Linked DNA regions of Homo sapiens: all the other regions are linked to region 1. Evidence: fine-mapped expression QTL. A gene starts in region 1. Each other region holds a variant in brackets. All regions are shown on one strand. Distances are from middle to middle.

The links. PIP is the estimated chance that this variant, and not a neighbour inherited with it, causes the effect. A credible set is the group of variants that fine-mapping cannot tell apart.
Region 2: its variant is the best candidate, but not a certain one, in a credible set for the expression of TOMM20 in nasal epithelium (TOPMed, PIP 0.53).
Region 3: its variant is the best candidate, but not a certain one, in a credible set for the expression of TOMM20 in esophagus muscle (GTEx, PIP 0.77).
Region 4: its variant is the best candidate, but not a certain one, in a credible set for the expression of TOMM20 in tibial nerve (GTEx, PIP 0.69).
Region 5: its variant is the best candidate, but not a certain one, in a credible set for the expression of TOMM20 in whole blood (TOPMed, PIP 0.68).

What each region holds. Positions count from the first base shown.
Region 1 is chr1:235,125,794-235,130,896 of GRCh38, reverse strand. TOMM20 (translocase of outer mitochondrial membrane 20) reads left to right here and starts at 2,060. Exons shown (of 5, transcript NM_014765.3): 1 at 2,060-2,302. The coding sequence starts at 2,182. SNORA14B (small nucleolar RNA, H/ACA box 14B) reads left to right here and starts at 2,960; the gene lies at 2,960-3,094. LOC105379283 (a long non-coding RNA gene) reads left to right here and starts at 2,696. Exons shown (of 2, transcript XR_949295.4): 1 at 2,696-3,268; 2 at 3,928-3,978. RefSeq lists enhancers at 1,783-1,882, 2,113-2,332.
Region 2 is chr1:235,351,600-235,356,702 of GRCh38, reverse strand. No RefSeq gene overlaps it. Among named protein-coding and RNA genes, the nearest start is that of TBCE, 13 kb to the left of the region's middle. The variant C/T (reference allele first, on the strand shown) is at 2,438.
Region 3 is chr1:235,150,363-235,155,465 of GRCh38, reverse strand. It overlaps RBM34 (RNA binding motif protein 34), which reads left to right. Exons shown (of 11, transcript NM_015014.4): 4 at 354-585; 5 at 2,701-2,760. Among named protein-coding and RNA genes, the nearest start is that of RBM34, 8.3 kb to the left of the region's middle. The variant A/G (reference allele first, on the strand shown) is at 3,110.
Region 4 is chr1:235,092,562-235,097,664 of GRCh38, reverse strand. No RefSeq gene overlaps it. Among named protein-coding and RNA genes, the nearest start is that of LINC01348, 25 kb to the right of the region's middle. RefSeq lists enhancers at 3,625-3,784, 3,750-4,333. The variant T/C (reference allele first, on the strand shown) is at 3,142.
Region 5 is chr1:235,235,294-235,240,396 of GRCh38, reverse strand. ARID4B (AT-rich interaction domain 4B) reads left to right here. Exons shown (of 24, transcript NM_016374.6): 8 at 1-84. Among named protein-coding and RNA genes, the nearest start is that of MIR4753, 48 kb to the right of the region's middle. The variant T/C (reference allele first, on the strand shown) is at 2,271.

The DNA of each region.
Region 1 (5,103 bases):
ACAAAGGGTTCTTGGATCTTGCCTAAGAAAGAATTTGGGGCCAGTCCACAGAGTAAAGTGAAAACAAGTTTATTAAGAAAATAAAGAAGATCACTCACGGTGGCTCATGCCTGTAATCCCAGCACTTCGGGAGGCCGAGGTGGGTGGATCACCAGATGTCAGGAGTTTGAGACTAGCCTGGCCAACATGGTGAAACCCCATCTCTACTAAAAATACAAAAATTTGCTGGGTGTGGTGGCACATGCCTGTAATCCGAGCTACTGGGGAGGCTGAGGCAGGAGAATCGCTTGAACCCAGGAGGTGGAGGTTATAGTGAGCCAAGATCATGCCACTGCACTCCAGCCTGGGTGACAGCAAGACTGTCTCAAAAAAAAAAAAAAAAAAAAAAAAAAGTGAAAGGTTACTTTGTAGAATGGTGCATACCCTAAAGCAAGAGAAGGAACATGTCCACCTTAGGTACAAGGCTTGTTTGTATTGAACAGCAAAAAAATGAGGAAGATGAGCTCTACTCCAAGAGCTTGTGACAAAGGATTTTTTGTGTGTTTGTTTTGAGACGAGGTCTTACCCTGTCACCCAGTTTGGACTGCAGTGGTACAATCATAACTCAACTGCAGCCTCAACCTCCTGGGATTAAGGGATACTTCCGCATCATTCCCCATGTAGTTGGGACCACAGGTGTGTGCCACCACGCCTGGCTAAGTTTTTAATTTTTTTGTGGAGACAGGGTCTCACCATGTTGCCCAGGCTGGTGTTGAACTCTTGGGCTCAAGCTATCCGCCCATCTGGGCCTCCCAAAGTGCTGGGATTACAGGTGTGAGACACTGCCTGGTCTTTGTCAAAGGACTGTTAATCCTGTGTAACTACTGTCTTCTGCAAGGATCAATATTATCTTTAAAGGGAAAATTAAACTAAGAATGCTTTTGTTCTTAAGATATCAGGACATCAGGACATTTCCTGGGTCTGTTAGGTAAACATTATTAACTTGTTCCCTTCCCTGTAAATATCCTGTGACCAAGAATGCCAAACTTCCTGGGAATGTGCCCCAATAGGTCTCAGCCTCATTTTACCCAGCCCCTATTCAAGGTAAGGTAGCTCTGGTTCCAATGTCTCTTGACACTGATGCTTGACTTCGATACCCCTCAACTTACAGTGTCTGTTTAATGCCTGCTTTCTGCCCACGATTTTCCTTGTCAATATCTTAAGTTAGATCATATATATATATATTTTGTTTTTTTGAGACGGACTCCTGATCTGTCACTCAGGCTGGAGTGCAGTGGCTCGATCTTGGCTCACTGCAACCTCTGCCTCCTGGTTCAAGCGATTCTCCCGCCTCAGCCTCCAGAGTAGCTGGGATTACAGGCCCCGGCCACCATGGCCAGCTAATTTTTGTATTTTTAGTAGAGACAGGGTTTCACTATGTTGGCCAGGCTGGTCTCAAACTCCTGGCCTTAAGTGATCCGCCTGCCTCGGCCTCCCAAAGTGTTGAGATTACAGGCGTGAGCCACCGCGCCTGGCCTGATCATGTGTATGTTTTCGTGTGGCTATAAAACAATTCACGTTTTCTATTTTTTCTTCAATTGTGTATATTTTTCAAGAAATTACTCCATTTAATTTTATTCCAGTTATCATAAAATGAGGCTATCCTGTAACATTCTTTTGAAATGGAACCACTACGCACAATGGATTGTGGCAACCTGAAAAGAAAGTACAGTTTAATTCAAACAAGTCACAGGCTGCCTGTGTTAGACAAGATGAAGCATTCGCAGTCTGGGACCCTGCATCTCTGTCTGCCACAAACAAGGCTGTCAGCTAGTCTTCTGAGTACGTGCACGCCAGTAACGCGTACGCCTCGTTACAGCATGGTCGGCGGATATGAAAAAAAGTCCGTGGTCACGTGCAAATTCCCGACTCCAGTGCGTACACCCAGCGGCGCAGGGGAAACGCCGGCTTCGCCCACTGCGCAGGCGCAGGAGCCGCGCTCTGGGCCTCTGCTCAGGCTCTGCCGCGGACGACCTCGAGGCCCTTAGTTGACTGGGACCGGAAGTGGCGTGTGCTCGGCCTTTCTGTGTTCCTGGCCCGCGGCCGTCGGGTGTGAGCTGCGCCGACCGCTCTGAGGGTTCGTGGCCCACCGCTCCTTCGCGGTCCCTGCCGCCACCGTCCACGCTCAGCGTTGTAGAGAAGATGGTGGGTCGGAACAGCGCCATCGCCGCCGGTGTATGCGGGGCCCTTTTCATTGGGTACTGCATCTACTTCGACCGCAAAAGACGAAGTGACCCCAACTTCAAGAACAGGCTTCGAGAACGTGAGTGGGTCCTCTCTCCCCTGGCCAGGCTTGCTGCCTTCGGCCGCCGCCCTTCACAGGAGGGGTCATTGCCTCCCACCAGCCTGTGGGCCGCGCAGGGCGACCGCGTGGTGCGGCCCTCAATAGGCGATGGCGCTGGCTGCGCCGCTCCGGGGGCTCTAGTGCCCCGTAGGAATTCCATTTTGGAGGAAGGATTTTTCCCGTTTTGTTTTCCCCAGACACTTTAGCCGTGCAAATGCACTCTTGATTTCTGTTGCAATCTCGGGTGTGTGTGGCCTGGGGAGGAGGTTGTCTCTTTTTTTGTCGTTCATCTTTTTAAACCTCTACTCTTAACTAAAAAGTCGTGCATTTTTGTCGCAAATTTTAGTCTGAGGCTAAATCCGCATGCTCAGTGCAGTATCATTGTTGCATTCTTTTTTTTGAGACGGAATCTCGCTCTGTCGCCCAGGCTGTAGTGCAGTGGCGCGATCTCGGCTCACTGCAACCTCCGCCTCCCGAGTTCAAGCGCTTCTCCTGCCTCAGTCTCCCCAGTAGCTGGGATTACAGTCGGGCGTCACCACGCCCGGTGATTTTTTGTGTTTAGTAGAGACGGGGTTTCACCGTGTTGGTCAGGCTAGTCTCGAACTCCTGACCTCAGATGATCCGCCTGGCTCATTGCTGCATTCTTAAACCCTCTTGGTAGCTTCGTTCTAAGTGCTTCCAAGATATGAGTGAATGCTATAGAAATTGCAGGGGAGTCCAAAGGGCTGCGCTTCTCCCGTGGCTCAGTCTTATTTCATACCTGCGACATCTTTTAAGAGAGGTCTACCAGAGGGGAATCGTGTCATGAAAACCGTTGTGATCCACCTTGAATTTTCGGAGAATCTTCATTCGCATCATTGAAGAGCAAATTTGTTGCAATAAGAAATATTTTTTGGCTTATCTTGGTTGTTCAGCCAAATTAGTTTTTGGAATTAAAATTGATACGTAAGTTACTAAAGCCCAAGGGGTACAAAGAAGGGATTATTGTTTACTTAAGTAACAGTGGTTACGGTTTAATTCAGCTATACTAAGTCATTTCAAGTGTTCAGTAGCCCTGTGTGAGCAGTGACTGCAGCGCTGATCTTACTAGCACTAAGAATCAGACATCTAGTTCCAGCTTTCTTATGTTTTAGGAGGGAAGGGATATAGACATAATTTGATTTATGACTAGGCAGACTAATAGAATACTGTTTTACATTCAGACCTTGAATTTCTAGGGCCAGGTTAGCGGCATAATTTGGGGTTTCTGAATCCTAATTTCTGTAGTTGTAAAATCAGGTAATGCCACCTACCTCTTGTTGATCTTGTGAAGGTTGAGATGTTTGAATTGCCTTCCACGTTTTCTGACATAGGAAATGCTCCTCCATAAATGCTGGTGGTCATTCTGCCTTCGGGTTATTGTCCTGTAGTTGCCAAAATGGGTGACAGCTGGGGGCTTTGGTACAAATGCAGAGTTATAAAGAATGGATTAACCCTATCTTCCGTTGGAAACCCTGAAGTCCTGTTGCAGAAACAAGAGCTATCATTTTAGACAAATGGAGGAATGTTATTTCAAAATAACTTCTCCATCATTTTCAATCTAAAATTGTTTTTTCTGGATTTAGCGGCAACCTAATGATTACAGTGAATTACTTAGCTGCAGCAGTAACTTTAGGCAAGTAACTTCAAGCTTTAGTTTTCCCTTTTTGTAAAATGGTATAGTGTAGAGTTTTAGTCCTGTTCCTCACACATGGTAATTGATGAATGCTAGAGATTTTTTGTTGTTGTTGTTTGTTTGTTTGAGTCTCGCTCTGTCGCCCAGGCTCGAGTGCAGTGGGGTGATCTCGGATCATTGCAACCTCCGCCTCCCGGGTTCAAGCAATTCTGCCTCAGCCTCCTGAGTAGCTGGGATTACAGGCGCACACCACCATGCCAGGCTAATTTTTGTATTTTTAGTAGAGACAGGGTTTCACCATATTGGCCAGGTTGGTCTCGAACTCCTGACTTCATGATCTGCCCGTCTCAGCCTCCCAAAGTGCTGGGATTACAGGCGTGAGCCACCGCGTCCGGATGAGATATTTTTATGAGTAGAAATATTTTGTTGTTTGATGTTTTTGTAAAATTTATTTAGAATAATCTTGCAGTCTGTTCACAGGTAATTGAGGCTGGGTGTGGTGGCTCAACGCTAGTAATCTCAGCACTTTGGGAGGCCGAGGTGGGCGGATCACCTCATGTCAGGAGTTCAAGCAGCCTGGCCAGCATGGTGAAACCCCCACTCTGCTAAAAATACAAAAATTAGCCGGGTGTGGTGGTGCACGCCGGTAGTCCCAGCTGCTTGGGAGGCTGAGGCAGAATTGCTGGAATGTGGAAGGTGGAGGTTGCAGTGAGCAGAGACTGCACCACTGCACTCCATCCTGGGGGGACAGAGCAAGACTCTGTCTCCAAAATATACGTGTGTGTGTGTGTGTGTCTTTATATATATTTATATCTATATCTATCTATCTTTATCTATCTATCTATCTATCTAATCTAATCTATCGACCAGGCGCAGTGACTCACGCCTGTAATCCCAGCACTTTGGGAGGCCAAGGTGGGAAGATCATGAGGTCAGGAGATCGAGACCAGCCTGGTCAACATGGTGAAACCCCGTCTCTACTAAAAATACAAAAAAAAAAAAATTAGCTGGGCGTGGTGGCACGCACCTGTAGTCCCAGCTACTTGGGAGACTGAGGTAGGAAGATCGCTTGAACCTGGGATGCTGAGGTTGCAGTGAGCCGAGATGGCGCCACTGCACTCCAGCC
Region 2 (5,103 bases), 230 kb before region 1:
TGTGTGCCACCACGCTTGGCTAACTTTTTTTTTTTTTTTTTGAGATGGAGTCTCGCTCCGTAGCCCAGGCTGGGGTGCAGTGGCTCGATCTTGGCTCACTGTAACCTCCACCTCCTGGGTTCAAGTAATTCCCCTGCCTCAGCCTCCCAAATAGCTGGGACTACAGGCATGCACCACCACACCTGACTAATTTTTGTATTTTTAGTAGAGGTGGGGTTTCACCATGTTGGCCAGGCTGGTCTCAAACTCCTGACCTCAAGTGGTTCACCCACCTCAGCCTCTCAAAGTGCTAGAATTACAGGCATGAGCTACTGTGCCCAGCCCCTGGCTAACTTTTGTATTTTTAGTAGAGACAGGGTTTTACCATGTCACCATGTTGGCCAGGCTAGTCTTGAACTCTTTGTTTGTCTGTTTTTTTCTTTTATTTATTTATTTATTTATCATTATTATTATTTTTTGGTCTCAAACTCCTGACCTCAGGTGATCTACCCGCCTCGGCCTCCCAAAATGCTGGGATTACAAGTGTGAGCCAGCAGATCCAACCTTTTTTTTTTTTTTTTTTTTTTCTGGAGCCAGTGTCTTGCCCTGTTGCCCAGGCTGGAATGCAGTGTTGTAATTTTGGCTCACTGCAACGTCAACCTCCTGGGCTCAAGCAATCTTTCCACCTCAGCCTCCCGAGTAGCTGGGACTATAGGCACTTGCCATCACGCTTGGCTAATTTTTAAATTTTTTTTGTAGAGACAAGGTCTCACTATATTGCCCAGGGTGGTCTCCATCTCCTGACCTCAAGCAATCTTCCCGCTTTGGCCTTCAAGTAGCTGGGACCACAGGTGTGCATCATTATGCCTGGCTTTTATTTATTTATTTAGAGACAAGGTCTCACTATGTTGCCCGGTCTGGTCTTGAACTCCTGGGCTCAAGCTATCCTTCCCTCTTTGGCATCCCAAAGTGCTGGAATTACCAGCATGGGAGCCATCTTGCCTTGGCAAAGCTGTTTCAAAAAAAAAAAGAAAACCTGGGCGCAGGGTCTCACGCCTGTATTCCCAGCACTTTCGGAGGCTGAGGCCGGTGGATCACCTGAGGTCAGGAGTTCGAGACCAGCCTGATAACATGGAGAAACCCTGTCTCTACTAAAAATACAAAAAATTAGCCGGGCATGGTGGCACATGCCTGTAATCCCAGCTACTCAGGAGTCTGAGGCAGGAGAATTGCTTGAACCCGGGAGGCGGTGGTTGTGGTGAGCTGAGATCGTGCCATTGCAATCCAGCCTGGGCAACAAGAGCGAAACTCCATCTCAAAAAAGAAAAGAAAAAAATACTCCTATACGTGGCATGCCAGGATCAGTGCTGAGGCCCCTTCTTTTCTTTCTTACACAATATCTCTAGGTAACCTATCCAATCCTGGGCTTAAGTGATCACCAATGATCCACAAATCTAACTTCAGCCTTGCTTGAATCTCCCCTGAATCTAGCCTGTGCATGCAGTGACATTTCCTCCTGGATGCTTGATAGGCAGCTCTAATTTCCCCCTAATACCTACCCTTTCCCTGTCTTCCTAAGTCTGATTTATGATTTATCACCATCTACTCAGTTTCTTATAAAAAATCTAAAGACCATCCTTGACTCCTCTTTCCATTAACTCTACATCCTATCCACCAGTAATTCATATAAACTCCACTTTCTAAATAATCCCCAATTCAACTACTTCATACCATGTTCTCTGCTACCACCATCTCTCACTGGACACTCAAACACCCTCCTAATTGGTTTCCTTACCTCCTCTTCTGACTCTCTGTAGTCCATCATCCACTCAGATGCCAGGATGATCTTTTATAAAGGTAATTCAGATCTAGTTACTCCCCTTCTTTTTTCTTTTCTTTTCTCTCTTCTTTTCTTTCTTTCTTTCTTTTTTTTTTTTTTTTTTTGACAGAGTCTTGCTCTGTCACCCAGGCTGGAGTACAATGGCGCAATCTTAGCTCACTGCAACTTCCGCCTCCTGGGTTCAAGCAATTCTCCTGCCTCAGCCTCCCGAGTAGCTGGGATTACAGGCGCACACCACCACACCTGGATAATTTTTTGTATTTTTAGTAGAGACAGGGTTTCACCATGTTAGCCAGGCTGGTCTCGAACTCCTGACCTCATGATCCGCCTGCCTCAGCCTCCCAAAGTGCTGGAATTACAGGTGTGAGCCACTGCGCCTGGCCTTTACTCCCCTTCTTCTTTTTTTTTTTCTTTTTTGAGATGGAGTTTCACTCTTATTGCCCAGGCTGGAGTGCAATGGCACAATCTTCCCTCACTGCAACCTCTGCCTCCTGGGTTCAAGTGATTCTCCTGCCTCAGCCTCCCAAGTTTCTGGGATTACAGGCATGTGCTACCACGGCCAGCTAATTTTGTATTTTTAGTAGGGATGAGGTTTCACTATGTTGGTCATGCTGGTCT[C/T]GAACTCATGACCTCAGGTGTCAAACTCATGACCTCAGGTGGTCCACCCACCTTGGCCTCCCAAAGTGCTGGGATTACAGGCGTGAGCCACGGCACCTGGCCTTACTCATTTTCTTAAAACCATCCATCGGCTTCAAGTTGCAGTTAGTTTTAAAACCTAAAGTCTGGCTGGGCGCAGTGGCTCATGCCTGTAATCCCAGCGCTTCGGGAGGCCGAGGGAGGTGGATCACCTGGGGTCAGGAGTTTGAGACCAGCCTAGCCAATATAGTGAAAACCCGTCTCTACTAAAAATATAAAAAGTAGCCGGGTGTGGTGGCAGGTGCCTGTAATCCCAGCTACTCGGGAGGCTGAGGCAGGAGAATCGCTTGAACCCGGGAGGCAGAGGTCGCAGTGAGCCGAGATCGCGCCACTGCACTCCAGCCTGGGGGACAAGAGCGAGACTTCATCTCAAAAAAAAAAAAAAAAAAAAAAAAAAAAAAAAAAAACCCAACCTAAAGTCCTTTCTATGATTTACAAATTCCTACACAATCTAATACCTATGTTGCTTTGTACATATTGGCACCATTCTTTCCCACCTTATGACCTTTGTTGGCTATTCCTTTGGTTTCAAATGTTCTTTACTAGGATTGTGGTATAGCTAATTTCTTATCATTCAGAGCTCAGCTTAAATGCTACTCCCTCAGAGGTCTTCCCCGGATACCCAATGTAAGTAGCCACTCTTGAAATTATCTGCTTAGCATTTATTGTTGGTTTTCTCATTTACTGGTGCCTTTATTTTTTAAATTTCAATATTTGAATAGATGACATGTTCACATGCTTCCAAAAAATGAAAAGTAATAAATAGGTATACAGTGAGAAGTCTCTCTTGCTCCTCCCACCTCCTAGTCCTCTGTCTCCCAGGTCCTACCCCTAGATATTTTGTGCAAATATTTTTCTTTTTTTTTTGAGACGGAATCTTACTCTGTCTCCCAGGCTGGAGTGCAGTGGCACATTCTCAGCTCACTGCAACCTCTGCCTCCTGGGTTCAAGCAATTCTCCTCCCTCAGCCTCCTGAGTAGCTGGGATTACAGGTGTTAGCCATCACGCCTGGCTAATTTTTGTATTTTTAGTAGAGACATGGTTTCACCATATTGGTCAGGCTGGTCTCGAACTCCTGACCTCGTGATCTGCCCGCCTTGGCCTCCCAAATTGCTGGGATTACAGGCGTAAGCCACCATGCCCGGCTTTTTCCTTCCTTCCTTCCTTCCTTCTTTCTTTCTTTCTTTTGTTTTTTTTGTTTGTTTGTTTTGTTTTTTTTGAGACAGTGTCTTGGTCTGTTTCTCAGGCTGGAGTGCAGTGGTGCAATCTTGGCTCACTGCAACCTCTGCCTCCCGGGTTCAAGCAATTCTGCTGCCTCAGCCTCCCAAGTAGCTGGGACTACAGGCGCGCGCCACCATGCCCGGCTATTTTTTTGTATTTTTAGTAGAGATGGGGTTTCACCACGTTGGCCAGGCTGGTCTCAAACTCCTGACCTGGTGATTTGCCCACCTTGGCCTCCCAAAGTGCTGGGATTACAGGCGTGAGCCACCGCTTCTGGCCTTATTTTTTTTTTTCACAAATAGTAACTTACTATATAATCTCTTATAGAATCTTTTGCTTTCTTTTTGTCTTCATGTAGCTGGGAGATCTGGCTAACTTATTATTTATTTATTTATTTATTTATTTGAGACAGAGTTTTGCTCTTGTCGCCCAGGCTGGAGTGCAGTGGCATGATCTCAGCTCACTGCAACCTCCCCCTCCCAGGTTCAAGTGATTCTCCTGCCCTAGCCTCCCGAGTAGCTGGGATTATAGGCATGCGCCACCATATCTGGCTAATTTTGTATTTTTAGTAGAGACAGGGTTTCTCCATGTTGGTCAGACTGGTCTTGAACTCCCGACCTCAGGTGATCTGCCTGCCTCAGCCTCCCAAAGTGCTGGGATTATAGGCTTGAGCCTCTGCGCCCAGCCTGACTAACTTATTAGTAGGATTTTAGATAGTTCAGAGTACAATAGGAGGGCAGGAGAACCGGGTTCAGGTTCAAGACAAAGAACTGAGACAAAGAACCACAGCAACAGGTACCATTTGGCCAACATATGCTGCCAGATAAGTGAAGCGTTTTCTCCACTCAAGAATCTCCTTGGAGACAGTCCAACTGGCCAAGATTAGGTCATGTATCCAACCTTTGACTGTACAGGTCACTGAGAGGAAAGATATAACAATGTCCTGATACCCCTTGGCTTCTGTATGGGTTACTTTGGCTGTGCCCAACTGGGGAGAGGTAATTCACCAAAAGGAAATTAAACTGTGATTAGGAAGAATTAGGATGGGAGAATAGCCAATAAACAAGGGTATTAATAGCACCTACAGAGTTCATGCCTTTTTATGCATTAAGTATACCTTTTATATATTAAGTATATATTTAGTAAAACAAAAAAAACTAGGTCAACAGTAGAGGTCCAAGAGTATTGTTTTTCTTTTAAAGGACATGGTACATTATTTGAATTGGAAAAATCCTGCCATGAATCCATGTTAAAGAGATGTTTTCCAGCTGCCTTACTATGAAGTCAGCGTCTCACCAGCAGAGTGCAATTGGTCTGTAAGGCATAACAAAAAGACCTTGTATTAAGTCAGTCATAGCCTTTGAAAG
Region 3 (5,103 bases), 25 kb before region 1:
GGAGGCTGAGGTGGGAGGATTGCCTGAGCCTGGGAGGTTGAGGCTGCAGTGAGCTGTGATTACGCTGCTACACTCCAGCCTGGGTGACAGAGCAAGACCCTGTCTCAAAGAAAAAAAAAAAGAGCTTAACTTTTTCTAAATCTTGAGTTAAATCATTTTTTTTCTAAAGATACTAGTCAGTTTCTAGATAGCGCTGCTCTAAAAATTTTGATATATTTGTGAGTAGTAAATCTAGGAAAATTCAGAAGACATTGGGAAATATTTCTAGTCGGGAGGGTAGGGCTGTGCTTTGTCAAATACTAGACCTAACTGGCATGACTCTTACTGCTTATTTTATTTTTTGCCTTAAAAAGGGAAAGCGCTCTAGCGAGTGCTGATTTAGAAGAAGAAATTCACCAGAAACAAGGGCAGAAAAGGAAAAATTCTCAACCTGGTGTTAAAGTAGCAGATAGAAAAATACTTGATGACACAGAAGACACAGTTGTCAGTCAAAGAAAGAAAATTCAAATCAACCAAGAAGAAGAGAGATTAAAGAATGAGAGAACTGTGTTTGTTGGGAATTTGCCTGTTACATGTAATAAGAAGGTGAGTTTGTATATGGTAAAAGTTCAGAGAAGTTAATAACTTTGTTCTTCCTGTGTTGAATAAGCATTCAATAGTAAGTCATGGATATAACTTCATTGTAAATTATTACATAAATCATCCTAATATGAATGGATTCCAGTATCCACCCCCTCCTTTTCATTCCTGTAGTCCCTGCCAATTCAGGCTTTTGCAGATTATATTTGAATATTGCAGTGACCTCCTGCCTGGTTTCTTTCTTTCAGCCTTGTCTCCTGTTATATGCCACTAGAAAGTAAGCTCCATATGTTTAAAGATGTCTTTCCTTTTTCTTTTCTTTTTCAGGACAGGTTCTCACTGTCACCTAGGCTGGAGTGTAGTGGCATGATCATTGCTCACTGCAGCCTCAAACTCCTGGACTCAAGTGATCTTACTGCCTCAGCCTCCTGAGTAGCTGGGACTACAGGCGCACGCCACCGTGCCTGGCTAATTTTTGTGTTTTTTTTTTTGTGACTATGTTGCCCAGGCTGGTCTCAAACTCCTGGGCTTAAGTGATCTGCCCTCCTTAGCCTCCCAAGGTGCTGGGACTTCAAGCATGAGCCACTGGGCCTGATCCTCTTTTTTCATCATTCTGTCTCTCTCTCTCTTTTTTTTTTTTTGAGACAGAGTCTCGCTCTGTTGCCCAGGCTGGAGTGCAGTGGCGCGATCTCTGTTCACTGCAAGCTCCGCCTCCTGGGTTCACACCCTTCTCCTGCCTCAGCCTCCTGAGTAGCTGGGACTACAAGCGCCCGCCACCACGCCCAGCTAATTTTTTGTATTTTTAGTAGAGACGGGGTTTCACTGTGCTAGCCAGGATGGTCTCGATTTCCTGACCTTGTGATCCGTCCGCCTCGGCCTCCCAAAGTGCTGGGATTACAGGCATGAGCAACCGCACCCAGCCTCGTTCTGTCTCTTGACACCTGAAATGGTGCCTTGTGCATAGTAAATATGTGTTGTTTAAAGAATGAAGATGTCCTGAGTTTCTTCCGTTGTGTGACGATCACTGAAGCAAAACCTGCCCTTTGCTTCTGCATGTTCATGTGATAGTAACTGTTGCAATCCTTAGCTCGGTATCCTGCTCATATTTTGAAGGACAGTTTAAACTCTACTTGATTAAAAACAGTAGAAAAACCTTTTTGAGGCCAGGCGTGGTGGCCCACACCTGTAATCCCAGCACTCTGGAAGGCCAAGGCGGGCGGATCCCCTGAGGTCGGGAGTTCGAGACCAGCTTGGCCAACATGGTGAAACCGCTTCTCTACTAAAAGTCCCAAAAATTAGCTGGGTGTGGTGACACATGCCTGTAATCCCAGCTACTTTGAAGGCTAAGGCAGGAGAATTGCTTGAACCCAGGAGGGGGAGGTTGCAGAAGCCAAGATCGTGCCACCGCACTCCAGCCTGGGTGACAGTGAGTGAGACTCTGTCTCAAAAAAAAAAAAAAAAGTTTATTCCTGGTTTAAACCAATGTGAAAACATGAGAGAATCTATGGAAGTTATAAGTCTATCCTTAATTTACATGTGATAAAGGTTATAAAAGATTGAAAGAAAAGCATACATCCGATGGATACTAATAGGAGCTTGAATTGTGTTTTCTTTTTTTTTTTTTGAGACAGAGTCTCACAAGTTTCAGTAAAATTTTTTTGTTCATCCAACTGAATAGTCACCTACTTTCCTGAAATGTTCTTAAAAACTGGCAGTAGGCCGGGTGCGGTGGCTCATGCCTGTAATCCCAGCACTTGAAGAGGCTGATGTGGTTGCATCACCTGAGGTCAGGAGTTTGAGACCAGACTGGCCAACATGGCGAAACCCCGTCTCTACTAAAAATACGAAAATTAGCTGAGCATGGTGGCGGGCGCCTGTAATCCCAGCTACTTGGGAGGCTGAGGTATGAGAATCACTTGAAGCCGTGGGGGCGGAGGTTGCAGTGAGCTGAGATCACACCACTGCACTCCAGCCTGGGCGAAAGTGCAAGACTCTGTCTCAAAAAAAAAAAAAAAAGCCTGGCAGTAGAGGATTATCAGACAATTTTTCTTAATTCCTTTTTGTAGCACTTATTTGATGTTCTGAAGGTCAGCTAATGTGTATTTTTTTTTTTAATTTTAGAAGCTGAAGTCGTTTTTTAAAGAGTATGGACAAATAGAATCTGTACGATTTCGTTCTCTGGTATGTTTCATTCCCCCGTAAAATTACATAATATTAAAATTTATTGCATTTAAATCAGATGAACTTATTGCTGTTAGTGAGATGGTGAAGCACTTTAACCTTTTGAATCAATAGGTTCAAATTTAACCCAAGAAAAGAGTTGCTCTTACTATCTACTGCTGACTCTTGAACTTTTTAAATAATGTATTGAGTTTACTTAATAAAATGATACTCTTGCTATGAAAGCCTGCAATGTACTTTGGAGGGTGGATGGGTGACTTATTTACTGTGTCAGCAGAATAGACTGAAAAGTTAATACTGATTATCATTGCTGGAATCCTAGGCATTCTCTTCCTATGTCCCATCATAC[A/G]CATTAGTATGGGAGGTGGGTATGATTGCTGCAAACAGTCTTTGTTCTCTGAGCACAGACAGATAAAGAATTTATGTCAATTTAATATTAAAACTTTATAGAAGTGAGTTGGATTTTACCAGCTCAGCACTCTGAACCAGTTATAGCCACATTCTTTGGAGCAGGAAATAAGTATCATTTATATTTGGTTTTCCCATACATGATTTTTTTTTTTAACTGCATAGGCATAGTTAGTTGACGTACCATAGTGTACATTTTTGGGCACTATTACATAATTAATGTATATTAGAATATAGGAAATGTTTATTCTATTTTTTTTTTTGAGACAGAGTCTCGCTGTGTCTCACCCAGGCTGGAGTGCAGTGGTGCGATCTCAGCTCACTGCACCCTTCGCCTCCTGGGTTCAAGCAATTCTCATGCCTCAGCCTCCCAAGTAGCTGGGATTACAGGTGTGCGCTACCATGCCCGGCTAATTTTTGTATTTTTAGTCCGGACAGGGTTTCACCATGTTATCCAGACTGGTCTCAAACTCGTGACCTCAGGTGATTCGCCTGCCTCAGCCTCCCAAAGTGCTGGGATTACAGGTGTGAGTCACTGCACTTAGCCTTTTTCATGTTTCTAATTGCTCTTTCTCATGTGATTCTCTGGAATAGAGTTTCTCAACCTCCATACAGTTGACATTTTGGGCTGGATAATTCTTTGTTGTTGGAGGCTGCCCTTTGTATTATAGGATGTTTAGTAACATCCATGGTCTTTACCCACTAGATGCTGGTAGCACCTCCTGCACCTCAGTTTTCACAATGGAAAATATCTTCAGGAATTGCCAAATGTTAGAGGAGGCACAACTGCCCACTTCTATAGAAGTAGACGTTACCCAAAGCTTTGACAGTGCCCATAATTTCTGTCAGGGTATTTATTTCCCACTCTTATCACATATCTTTTGTCTGCCCTTCTGAGTTCCATTTCCCTGTATTAGACCTTTGGCTGATGCATTAGTGTGGGTGTCTTGCCAGACCCTGATTTCAATATATCTGCTTACTTCCATCCATTCTCACCCCAACCCTATGCTGCCTACTGATTTTTCTGTGGTATTTAGTGGCACCCAGGCTGCAGGTTTTGTGGTTGCCTTTGACTCTTCATTGGCTCACCCATGCTAGTGTTTGCCACTCCTGTCCGTTTTTCAACTGTGATTTCTTCCTAATATGAGTCATTCCTTTCTTTTTTCCTTGTCCTACCTAAGTTCTCATTACCTCCTGTCAGAATAGTCGCAGAGGCCTATTGTAGTTCCTTACCTTCAGTCTTCCTCTAATTTGTCCAACAAAACACTGTGAACTCAGTCTTCCTGAAGCTCTTCTTCCCGGAACCCTTACCTCTTTCCCTGCCTTGCATTAATGAAACGCCCTTCCCCCCATCCCCCCAGCCGCCACACACACACCCCTCACGGGGCCTGCTATTGCCTTCTCCCCTTTGGGGAGCCTACCTTGATTCTCCCCAGTCTCTAGGCTACCAGTGTGTCCCTGCTATGCATTTGACAGCACCCATCCCTCATTACAGTACTTAGTACACTCTACTGAAATTGTCGTTTGCCTCCTCCACCAGACTGTAAGCTGTGGTTACAAATACTCTGTCTTACTTCTTCTTGGGTTACCAGCACCTGTACATTGTGTTAATTATTCTGTCAGTGAAATACATCCTTAATTCTTAGCTTGGCAGTTCTCCAGTGTGGCCCTGCCTCTCCTGTGTTCCTCTACACGTGGGTTTTCTCACCTTTGTCCCTTTGCCAGTCCATTTGTTTTGCCTGGAATCCTTCCTTAAAGTACCATTTTTGCCTATGAAAGTATTTTTCAGTATGTGGCTAAAAATGTCCCTTCTTCAAAGCTTTTCCGATACTTTATATCATTAAGTGATATTTTTTCCTCTGCATTATTCCTGTACTTTATTGCCTTATGTTGTACTTATGTATTAATATCTTTAATGACAGGATGTAGGCCGGG
Region 4 (5,103 bases), 33 kb after region 1:
GGCATGATGGCATGTGCCTGTAGTCCCAGCTACTGGAGAGACGAGCAGGAGGATGGCTTGAGCCCGCCAGTTTGAGGTTACAGTGAGCTATGATTGCATAACCTGGGCAACAAAATGGGATCCCGCCTCAAAAAACAACAACAAACCCCCAGAAAACAAAAAAAACCCTTTCCTTGGTTCTGTCTACGGAGGTGACATTTATCTCCTACTCTGAATGATGGCTCCCTCAGACCCCTCATGGAGCCCAAGAGCATCCAAAAGAGGATCAAAAACTTCATCTGGCACCAGTTAGACCAGTTCCTGGTCCACTACATCAAGAAACTGGAAGTGCTGCTGATGGGCAGTGAATCTGACTGTGCAGGGACCGCTCGCCGTGCCTCCTCCAAGAACCAAGAACCGCAACGCTGTTTCGGGAAGAGCAGCCCAGCTGCCGTCAGAGTCAGCAATCCCAATGCTGGGCTGCCCCGCCAAGAAAATGAATGGGCAGCCATGTGTACATATTATTTGTGTTTAAATAAAGCCATAAAATCTGAAAGAAAAAAAACAAACCAGGCGCGGTGGCTCATGCCTGTACTGTAATCCCAGCACTTCGAGAGGCTGAGGCGGGTGGATCACCTGAAGTCAGGAGTTCGAGACCAGCCTGGCCAACATGGTGAAACCCCCATCTCTACTAAAAATACATAAATTAGCTGGGCATGGTGGCGGGCGCCTGTAGTCCCAGCTGCTCAAGAGGCTGAGGCAGGAGAATAGCTTGAACTTGGGAAGTGGAGGTTGCAGTGAGCCCAGATCGCATCACTGCACTCCAGCCTGGGTGTCAAGAGCGAGACTGTGTCTCAAACAAAAACGAAAACAAAAACAAACAAAAAGAGTGAAGAGTATGCTCGGGCTGTCTAGCATTGTAGAAGGGCACCTCCACTTTGGAGAACTTTCTTTCGGCTGCCTTGTCTCTCTCTTCTCTCCTAAGTGGACCAAGGGACAGGCTTCCATGGCTTTCTTCCAAGCTAGAAACACCAGCAGGTCACTACTCATGTTGTGTATTTAGAAACCTTATTTAAAAAACTGGATTGCAAAGTAGAGAGTAGCTCAAAGGATGAAGCAGTTTTTTCCCCAATGGTTTTTGTGAGTCTATTACCAATGGCCTAATTTTGCTTTAATCAAAGGTTTTTATGATGCTAACTGATGATGTCTAAACACAAATAAAGGTTTTGTTTTGTTTCTGAGAATAGTGGCTTAAAAAATACTAACATGGAAAAATAATGGATGATTTTGCTGATAGTAGTACTGTTTGCAGATTTGTTTGCAGTACTGTTTGCAGATTTGTTTGCAGTACTGTTTGCAGTTTTATGGTGAAAGAAAATAATTTAGCAGCTAAGGCGAGTTTGTGCCTTGCCTTAGCACATGGTCACTTACGAACTGTGCGGTGTGGGTCTACACCTAGAACTTTCCCTCAGAACAGAGATTTAACAATTAGATGACACTCAGGAAGCTTCCTTTAAACAAGCAAATATTTCCAGTTGACAACAGGAATGTAAACACGACTCCAATCAGTGAATATGCTGAAAGCTCTTTCCTATCTGCGGTATTAGCTGTGCTCAGTGGAGAGGGTAACGTTTCTTCCTTTGTCTCCTCACATACTCATCTCCAATTAAATTACTTACCATCAATTCATAGACCTTTAGGGCTAAGCTAATTTTTAAACACTGACAAAAATTCTACAAAGAGCATCTATAAAACAGGTTGGGAGAGTGTCCTCAGAAGTTGAACCTAGAACCATGTCCTGGGTAGTATTCTCTGCATTGCCTTGTGGGGTCGTGTGTGGGAAAACATTCTTTTTTGTTTGTTTTTTGAGATGGAGTCTCACTCTGTCTCCCAGGCTGGAGGAGTGCAGAGGTGCGATCTCGGCTCACTGCAGCTTCCGCCTCCCTGGTTCAAGCGATTCTCCTGCCTCAGCCTCCCGAGTAGCTAGGATTACAGGTGCCCACTACCACACCCAGCTAATTTTTGTATTTTTAGTAGAGACGAGTTTCACCACGTTGGTCAGGGTGGTCTCGAACTCCTGACCTCAGGTCATCTGCCCGCCTCCGCCTCCCAAAGTGCTGAGATTACAGGCGTGAGCCACCGTGCCTGGCCACACGTGGAAAAAACATTCTGATCTGGCTGGGCGCGGTGGCTCACGCCTGTAATCCCAGCACTTTGGGAGGCCGAGGCGGGCGGATCACGAGGTCAGGAGATCAAGACCACCCTGGCTAACACGGTGAAACCCCATCTGTACTAAAAATACAAAAAAAAAAACAAACAAAAACAACAACAACAAAGAAAACATTAGCCGGGCGTGGTGGCGGGCCCCTGTAGTCCCAGCTACTGGGGAGGCTGAGGCAGGAGAATGGCTTGAACCTGGGAGGAGGAGCTTGCAGTGAGCCGAGATCGCGCCACTGCACTCCAGCCTGGGCGACAGAGTGAGACTCCGTCTCAAACAAAAACAAAAACAAAAAACCAAAACATTCTGATCCATGAACCTTTGGATTTCTCTGGGAGGAAACAGGTCTCTGCTCCAGCACTTCGCACTTATTATGGGGCTCTTGGGAGAAGGCAAGAGGGAGAGATGGAGGATGTTGGTCTCCATGCAGGATCACGGCTGCCGGGCACGGTGGCTCACGCCTGTAATCCCAGCACTTTGGGAGGCCGAGGCGGGCAGGTTGCCTGAGCTCAGGAGTTCGAGACCAGCCTAGACAACAGGGTGAAACCCCGTCTCTACTAAAATATAAAAAATTAGCTGGGCACGGTGGCGTGTGCCTGTAGTCCCAGCTACTCGGGAGGCTGAGGCAGGAGAATTGCTTGAATCCAGGAGGCAGAGGATGCAGTGAGCTGAGCGCCGCCTGGACGACAGAGTGAGACTCCATCTCCAAAAAACAAACAAACAATAAAAAAGATCACGGCTTCTCTGGAACAACAGCTCAAGCTGTGTGTGTGATAGTTAACTTTATGTGTCAACTGGGAGGGTGTTTTTGTATGAGATCAACATTACAGCCAGGCATGGTGGTGCACACCTGTAATCCTAGCTACTTGGGAGGCTGAAGTGGGAGGATTGCTTGGGGCCAAGAGTTTGAGGCTGCATTGAACTATGATTGTGCCACTGCACTC[T/C]AGCCTGAGCAACATAGCAGGATCTCATTTTATATTTAAAAAAATCCCAAAACATATTGGTAAACTCTGAGTAAAGCAGAGGCCCTCTCTAATGTCGGTGGGTCTCATCCAATCAGTTGAAGATCTAAGTAGAACAAAAAGACTGGCCTTCCCAAGCGAGGGAAGTTATCCGGCAGAACGCCCTGGGACTTCTCTGCACCTTCCGCTCTCCTGGGTCTGGACTGTGCTGGCCCACGCCTTGGGTTTAGGACCTGCCAGCCTCCACAATCACGAGCCCATTCCTCAACGTGAAACTCTTCCTCTCTCTACACACATCCTGTTGGTTTTGTTTCCCTGGAGAACTGTAATACAGCATGTCCCGCTGATCCTGGCTTATTTGTACCAGATCTTAGACTTTCAGTCAAGGGGCCCTCATAGATAAACTGCTTCAATCTTCCAGGAAACCCCTATACCAAAAACTCATGCTGCTCGGCCCGCCTCTCAGCGCCTTCTTGGTGTGCTTGGGCGCCATCTAGTGCCTACCGCAGGCACTGCGATGACCTACCCGCCTCTTTCATCTCTATCATCACCGGTTTAATTCCTTAAGCACATATTAGTAGACCTCCATATTCGTGTGCATCATTCGCTCTTCTGTTCGCTCAACAAACATTTAGCGAAGGTTTGTTTATGCACAAGGCATTGCCACAGATGCAAGACCGCCCAGCAGGTGGCTTCTCCCCTTTGTGGAACTCACAGATCAGCTGGAGACAGGGAATAAATGCAGATTACAGTCAGGTGAGAGCAGGGCCACGCGGAAAGCATGATAAAGAGCTCAGGAGCTAAGGGGGTGAGCAAGGGGGACTGCGGGGAGGGCCACTGTCGATGCAGTGTTTACTGCGTTCCAGGCGTGGAGTGGGCTCTGGACACACAGGGGTGACCGTCACTCCCCGTAGCAGCATCCAGCCTGCTGGGGCCTCCTCTCCCCTGCTTGCATTCGGATTGCGCTCTAGGACAGTTCGTGATGGTCCCCAGGCCACAGCACCGAGAATGACTTCCTTGCATTTGCCAGAGTGTGGCAGTGGTTCTTCAAAAATCAGGCTCTGCACTTGGAAGCTCCAGGCGAGACACTTGGGCTGCAGCTCCTGAGGGCTGCCTTGCTGGGAAGGGGTGGGGACGTCCCGCCGGGGATCAAGGTGAAGGTGGGTGTGTGGCCGGATCCCTGCTTGTTTCCTGCTCCCTAGGGCCTAACTCCTCACCCCTCACTCTGCTGAGAATTGATGAGGAGGAAACAAGGGGAAGGCTTTGGGTCCTCGTACCCCTGTTGTCCAGGCTCCCGCCCCGTTCGGACGACCAGCGCTTCCCGGCTCCCCGTCATGCTTCCCCATGGGACTCCAGTCAGCAAGGATCCCGCTGAGTTCACACGTGCTCAGGGAGTGGCCCTGAGACTTGGGTGCTCCTTCCCATGAGGCTGACTGTGCTGGCGAAGCCACTGTAAGCCAGTAGTAATGATCACTCCGGGCCTACTGTGTGCTAGATGCTGAGTGCTGTTACTTAAGTCACCTCTAACCCTCTAACCTTTTTTTTTTTTTTTTTTTTTTTTTTTTTGAGACAGAGTTTCACTCTTGTTGCCCAGGCTGGAGTGCTGTGGCACAATCTCGGCTCACTGCAACCTCCGCCTCGCGGGTTCAAGTGATTCTCCTGCCTCAGCCTCCTGAGTAGCTGGGATTACAGGCATGTGCCACCATGCCCGGCTAATTTTGTATTTTTAGTAGAGATGGGGTTTCTCCATGTTGGTCAGACTGGTCTTGAACTCCCGACCTCAGGTGATCTGCCCGCCGCGGCCTCCCAAAGTGCTAGGATTACAGGCGTGAGCCACCGCGCCCGGGCAGTCACCTCTAACCCTTCTAAACCTTTCTAGGTGGTGTTCTTGTTTCACACGGATGTGGCAATTGGCTCAGAGGGTTGAGGTCATTAACAGGAGAA
Region 5 (5,103 bases), 110 kb before region 1:
CAGATTGATGAGCTACTAGGCAAAGTTGTATGTGTAGATTACATTAGTTTGGATAAAAAGAAAGCACTGTGGTTTCCTGCATTGGTGAGTAGCTTCAGTATACAAGAGTTTAATTTCAAACTTTATAAGTTTATGAAGAAAACAATTTTCTTACTAATGTTTTTCATAGGTACAAAATGAGGAAATGTTTTTAGCATTATTTAGTTCACACTAAGCTTACTTTCAACGTTGTCTTTGAATACAAAGAACTCTTGATGTCATTCAGGAAAGGCAAAATCTTGATAATCTTAGAGGTTTAGCTATGTGGAAGTTGAATTCTCTCTCTCTCGGTAGAAAATTCATGATGCAAACTTTTAAAGCTCCTAAGTCCATGTAGGTCTAGATTGCAAAAGAACAACAGAATCTTTCTTGGTTGACAGGGATAACTAGACCTTTTCCTCATACTTAGTGAATCAGGGTGTTTCCATCCTTGATCTTAATCTTGCCTTTTAGGTACTCCCTATATAATCATGACTGCAATTATACATTACCCCACTCTTCAATTTTCTCTACAGTAGATTGTTAATTCTACCTACTTTTTAATGTTTTTCTCTCCAAAAGATTGCAATTCCTTAGATTCCAGGTTGAATATTTTGCATTTTTTCCTTGTTTTCTCACGTTGCCTTTTTGTGATTCTGAGGAGGTACTCAAGATTTATTATCAGGAGTATCCTCATGATTGTCCCAAGTTCTTGTATTTCAAACTGTTAAGACATGACAGAAAGCCTTTTGAGCTTTTTATCTCTCTGTTTTTCGTAACCACTAGCTTCTTTAGCAAGTTGAAAGGGCCATGTATAGACCATTTTCTTTGACTTTTAGAAAGGGAACATATACTAATATCTTTCACGGACATAACTAGGCTGCTTTTCAAATAATCTTTTGGTAGACAAAATAATTTGTAGCTCTTAAAGCAAATAGAGGTTCAACTAATAATTAGCTATATATGATACTTTAATGAAGATTTAACTCTGTGGCAATAAGAATGCATTTTTTTCTGGACAGCATATAATTGGATAAATCACTTAAGGTTTTAAATTTCAAGTAGGAGACTGAAGTTAATAATCAGTATCTCTTAAGAATTATCTTGGCTGGGGTGTGGTGGCTCACACCTGTAATCCTAGCACTTTGGGAGGCCGAGGTGGGCAAATCCCCTGAGGTCAGGAGTTCGAGACCAGCCTGGCCAACAGGGCAAAACCCCGTCTCTACTAAAAATACAAAAAAATTAGCTGGCTGTGGTGGCACATGCCTGTAATCCCAGCTAGGCAGGAGAATAGCTTGAACCCAGGAGGCGGAGGTTGCAGTGAGCCAAGATCGCGCCACTGCACTCCAGTGTGGGCGACAGAGCAAGATTCCCTCTCAAAAAAAAAAAAAAGAAGAAAAAAAAAGAATTATCTTGAACTCTTTAAAATTTTGATATGTCTGAATTGTCCTATGATGATTTTATCTGAAGACCATTGAGTCATTTGCATCAAACAGTGAGATCCACTTTTTTTTTTTTTCCCCGGAGACAGAGGCTTACTCCGTTACCCAGGTTAGAGTGCAGTGGTGTGATCCTGACTCGCTGCAGCCTTGACCTCCTGGGCTCAACAATTCTCCCACCTCAGCCTCCTGAGTAGCTCACACTACAGGTGGAGACCACCACATCTGGCTAATTTTTAAATACTTTGTAAATACGAGGTCTCCCTATGCTGCCCAGGCTAGTCTTAAACTCCTGGATTCAAGTGACCTTCCCACCTTGGCTTCCCAGAGTGCTGGGATTACAGGTGGGGGCTACTGAGCCCAGCCCACATCTTTTACAAATATGTCCTCCCCTCACTTCATATTTAATAAGCTATAAACTGAAGATCCGCTGATAAACAAAAGACACTTTGAAAGTACTATTCTCACGTTTGACAACTAATTTGTTCTCAAATATCGAGAGACAGAATGGGTCAAAATTATTCTCTGTCTCTGTTTTGTATGTTCTCACTCCCTTACTAAAAATAATTAGCCAAATTCTCCTCTAATGCTTTTTTCCCTTATGTTAATGACATTCAATAAAATTTTTGTGTTCTCAAGATTAACACATATTTGTTAGGTATGCATTTATCATATACCAAGTTCTGTTCAAAATATTTAACAAAGATAGACTCATTTAGTGGTGTAGAGGTTTTTTGTTCTCATGATTAATAAACTTTCCTTTTTTCTTTTCTTTTCTTTTCTTTTTTTTTTTTTTGAGATGGAGTTTCGCCC[T/C]TGTTGCCCAGGCTGGAGTGCAATGGTGCGATCTCGGCTCACTGCAACTCCGCCTCCCAGGTTCAAGTGATCCTCCTGCCTCAGCCTCCCGAGTAGCTGGTATGACAAGCCACCATGCCCGGCTAATTTTGTATTTTTAGTAGAGACAGCGTTTCTCCATGTCGGTCAGGCTGGTCTCCAACTCCTGACCTCAGGTGATCTGCCCGCCTCAGCCTCCCAAAATGTTGGGATTACAGGCATGAGCCAGCACACCCGGTGATGATTAATAAACTTTTCTCTACAATTTGTGCTTGAGAATCTGCTAACTCTTTATTCTCATTCTCTCATTTTCCTGCTCATTGACTAACAATTGCAGAGACTTAGAAATGGGATTAAAACACTGTCCTTTGTTTATATGTATTTGTATGAAAACTTATGTCCATAATATATATAAACTCTTTTGTATATTTGTGGTTTTTGTGCTAAACTAGGTAACCATGGTCTCAAATGAAAAAGAAACAATAGAACTACCTTTGTTTTTACTGTTTTCTACTTGTGATGTCCATTTACCCTTTTTAGTCAACATGTCTTATTTCTTTATCTCCACTGCTTAGTTCAGTGTTCGGCACAAATTAAATATGCAGTAAATGTCAGCTCTTGTAATGATAGTGAAAAATGAGGACAATTATTTGTTTTAATAAATATAAATATTTTATAATACCTTTGTACCTTCCTGTGTATCCAACATTTAGTGGATACCTATATGTACAAGGAGTGTGCTAACACCTATTATGAGATAGGTATTATTATTTATCCCGATGTAGAGATAAGGAAACTGAGTATTAGCAGGGTTAAGTTAGTTGCCACACTTTGGGTTAATTATTAAGCTGAAAAAAAGCATCAGTGTTTGCGATTCTTTCTTTCTTTCTAAAGCACTAGGAGTCTTTGTGAGTTTCTTTTGAAAGTATGTTTTAAGGCCAGCTGCAGTGGCTCACACCTGCAGTCCCAGCACTTTGGGAGGCCGAGGCAGGCGGATCACCTGAGGTCAGGAGTTCAAGACCAGCCTGGCCAACATAGTGAAACCCCTTCTGTACTAAAAATGGAAAAATTTGCAGGACATGGTGGTGCGTGCTTATAGTCCCAGCTACTCGGGAGGCTGAGGCAGGAGAATCGCTTGAACCTGGGAGGCGGAGGCTGCAGTGATCTGAGATCACACCACTGCATTCCAGCCTGGGTGACAGAGCAAGACTTTTATCTCAAAAAAAAAAAAAAAAAAAAAAAAAAATATATATATATATATATATATATATATATTTTTTATAAAACCGTTTTGTGGGCCAGGCGCGGCGGCTCACACCTGTAATCCCAGCACTTTGGGAGGCCGAGGTGGGCAGATCACTTGAGGTCAGGAGTTCAAGACCAGCCTGGCCAACATGGTGAAACCCTATCTTTACTAAAATACAAAAATTAGCCGAGCATGGTGGCGGGAGCCTATAATCCCAGCTACTTGGGAGGCTGAGGCAGGAGAATTGCTTGAACACGGGAGGTGGAGGTTGCAGTGAGCTGAGACCGTGCCACAGCACTCCAGCCTGAGTGACAGAGCAAGACCCCATCTCAAACACACACACACACACACACACACACACACACACACAACTGTTTTGTAAGTCTTTTTCTCAATAGGAACATTAAATTTTTTAATATTAGTGTTTTGAGTTATTAATTTAAGCTTCTCACACCATAATCACTAAAAAGTTTCTTTGACGAAAATGAAAAATCTAAGGATTTTTAATATTGAAAGGTTAGTAATCTGTTTAGTCAGCCATTTCACTGTTGTTTTTAAATTCTTAGAATTATTGATGTATGTTATCTCCTCCCAAAATTGAGATCCATTGGACGGTGATGGATAGTTTTTGGTAACTAGAGTGAAAAATTATGTTCTAAATCGACCAATCTTGATATAATCGCACAAATAGTATTTGTGTTTCTAATTTATGTTATTTTTATAAATCGAGTAAATTCAAAGTGTTTTAGTAACATCATAAGAAAACAGTTAACTGGGTCTGGGTGGCCTGTGCCTGTAGTCCCAGCTACTTGGGAGACTGAGGTGGGAGGATCGATTGAACCCTGGGAGGTTGAGGCTGCATTGAGTCGTGATCACGCCACTGCACAGAGTGAGACCTTGTCTCAAAAAAAAAAAAAGAAAAAGAAAAAGGAAACAACTACATAGTCCCAGGAACTATAAATAACTACCATGCACTGAGTATTTACCCTGACTAGGACTGTGCTGAGCTTATTAATATAAGTAGTATTGTTTAATCCTAATTGAGACTTACTCTCAGTCTCAATTTTTTATTTTCCAATTTCATTTTAAGAGGGGGAAATCTTAGATTCCATGGCTCATGCAGTTCTCCTTTTCAGTTTTTTTCACCAGGTTCTCCTCTTCTAATCACCCTTTCAAGCTGTAATTCAGGATTCAGAATGTATCGCTGTATTTTCTTTACGGTGATCTCATCTCCTTTTAAAGCTTCACCTTGCAGAGATAGCAAAGAGATAAAGTGACCAAGAAAATAACATACATGGGTGAATGGGATAAAATGCATATTGTCGTTCTGTGGCAGAACTGGACAGTGAGCCCACTTACTCATACACCAGTGTCATCACTGGCCAAAGCTATCACATGTGCAGTTTTCGAAATCCTTCGCTCATCAGGGAAAAGTAATGAGTGGATTTGGCTCACAAGCCCCAAGTTTTAGACCCCTAATATTTAGGCTGTGGGCTCTCAAATTTATATCCTTGAGTCCAGACCTCTACGCTTTGCTCCAGACCTGATTTTTCTGTTCACTGTCTTCAT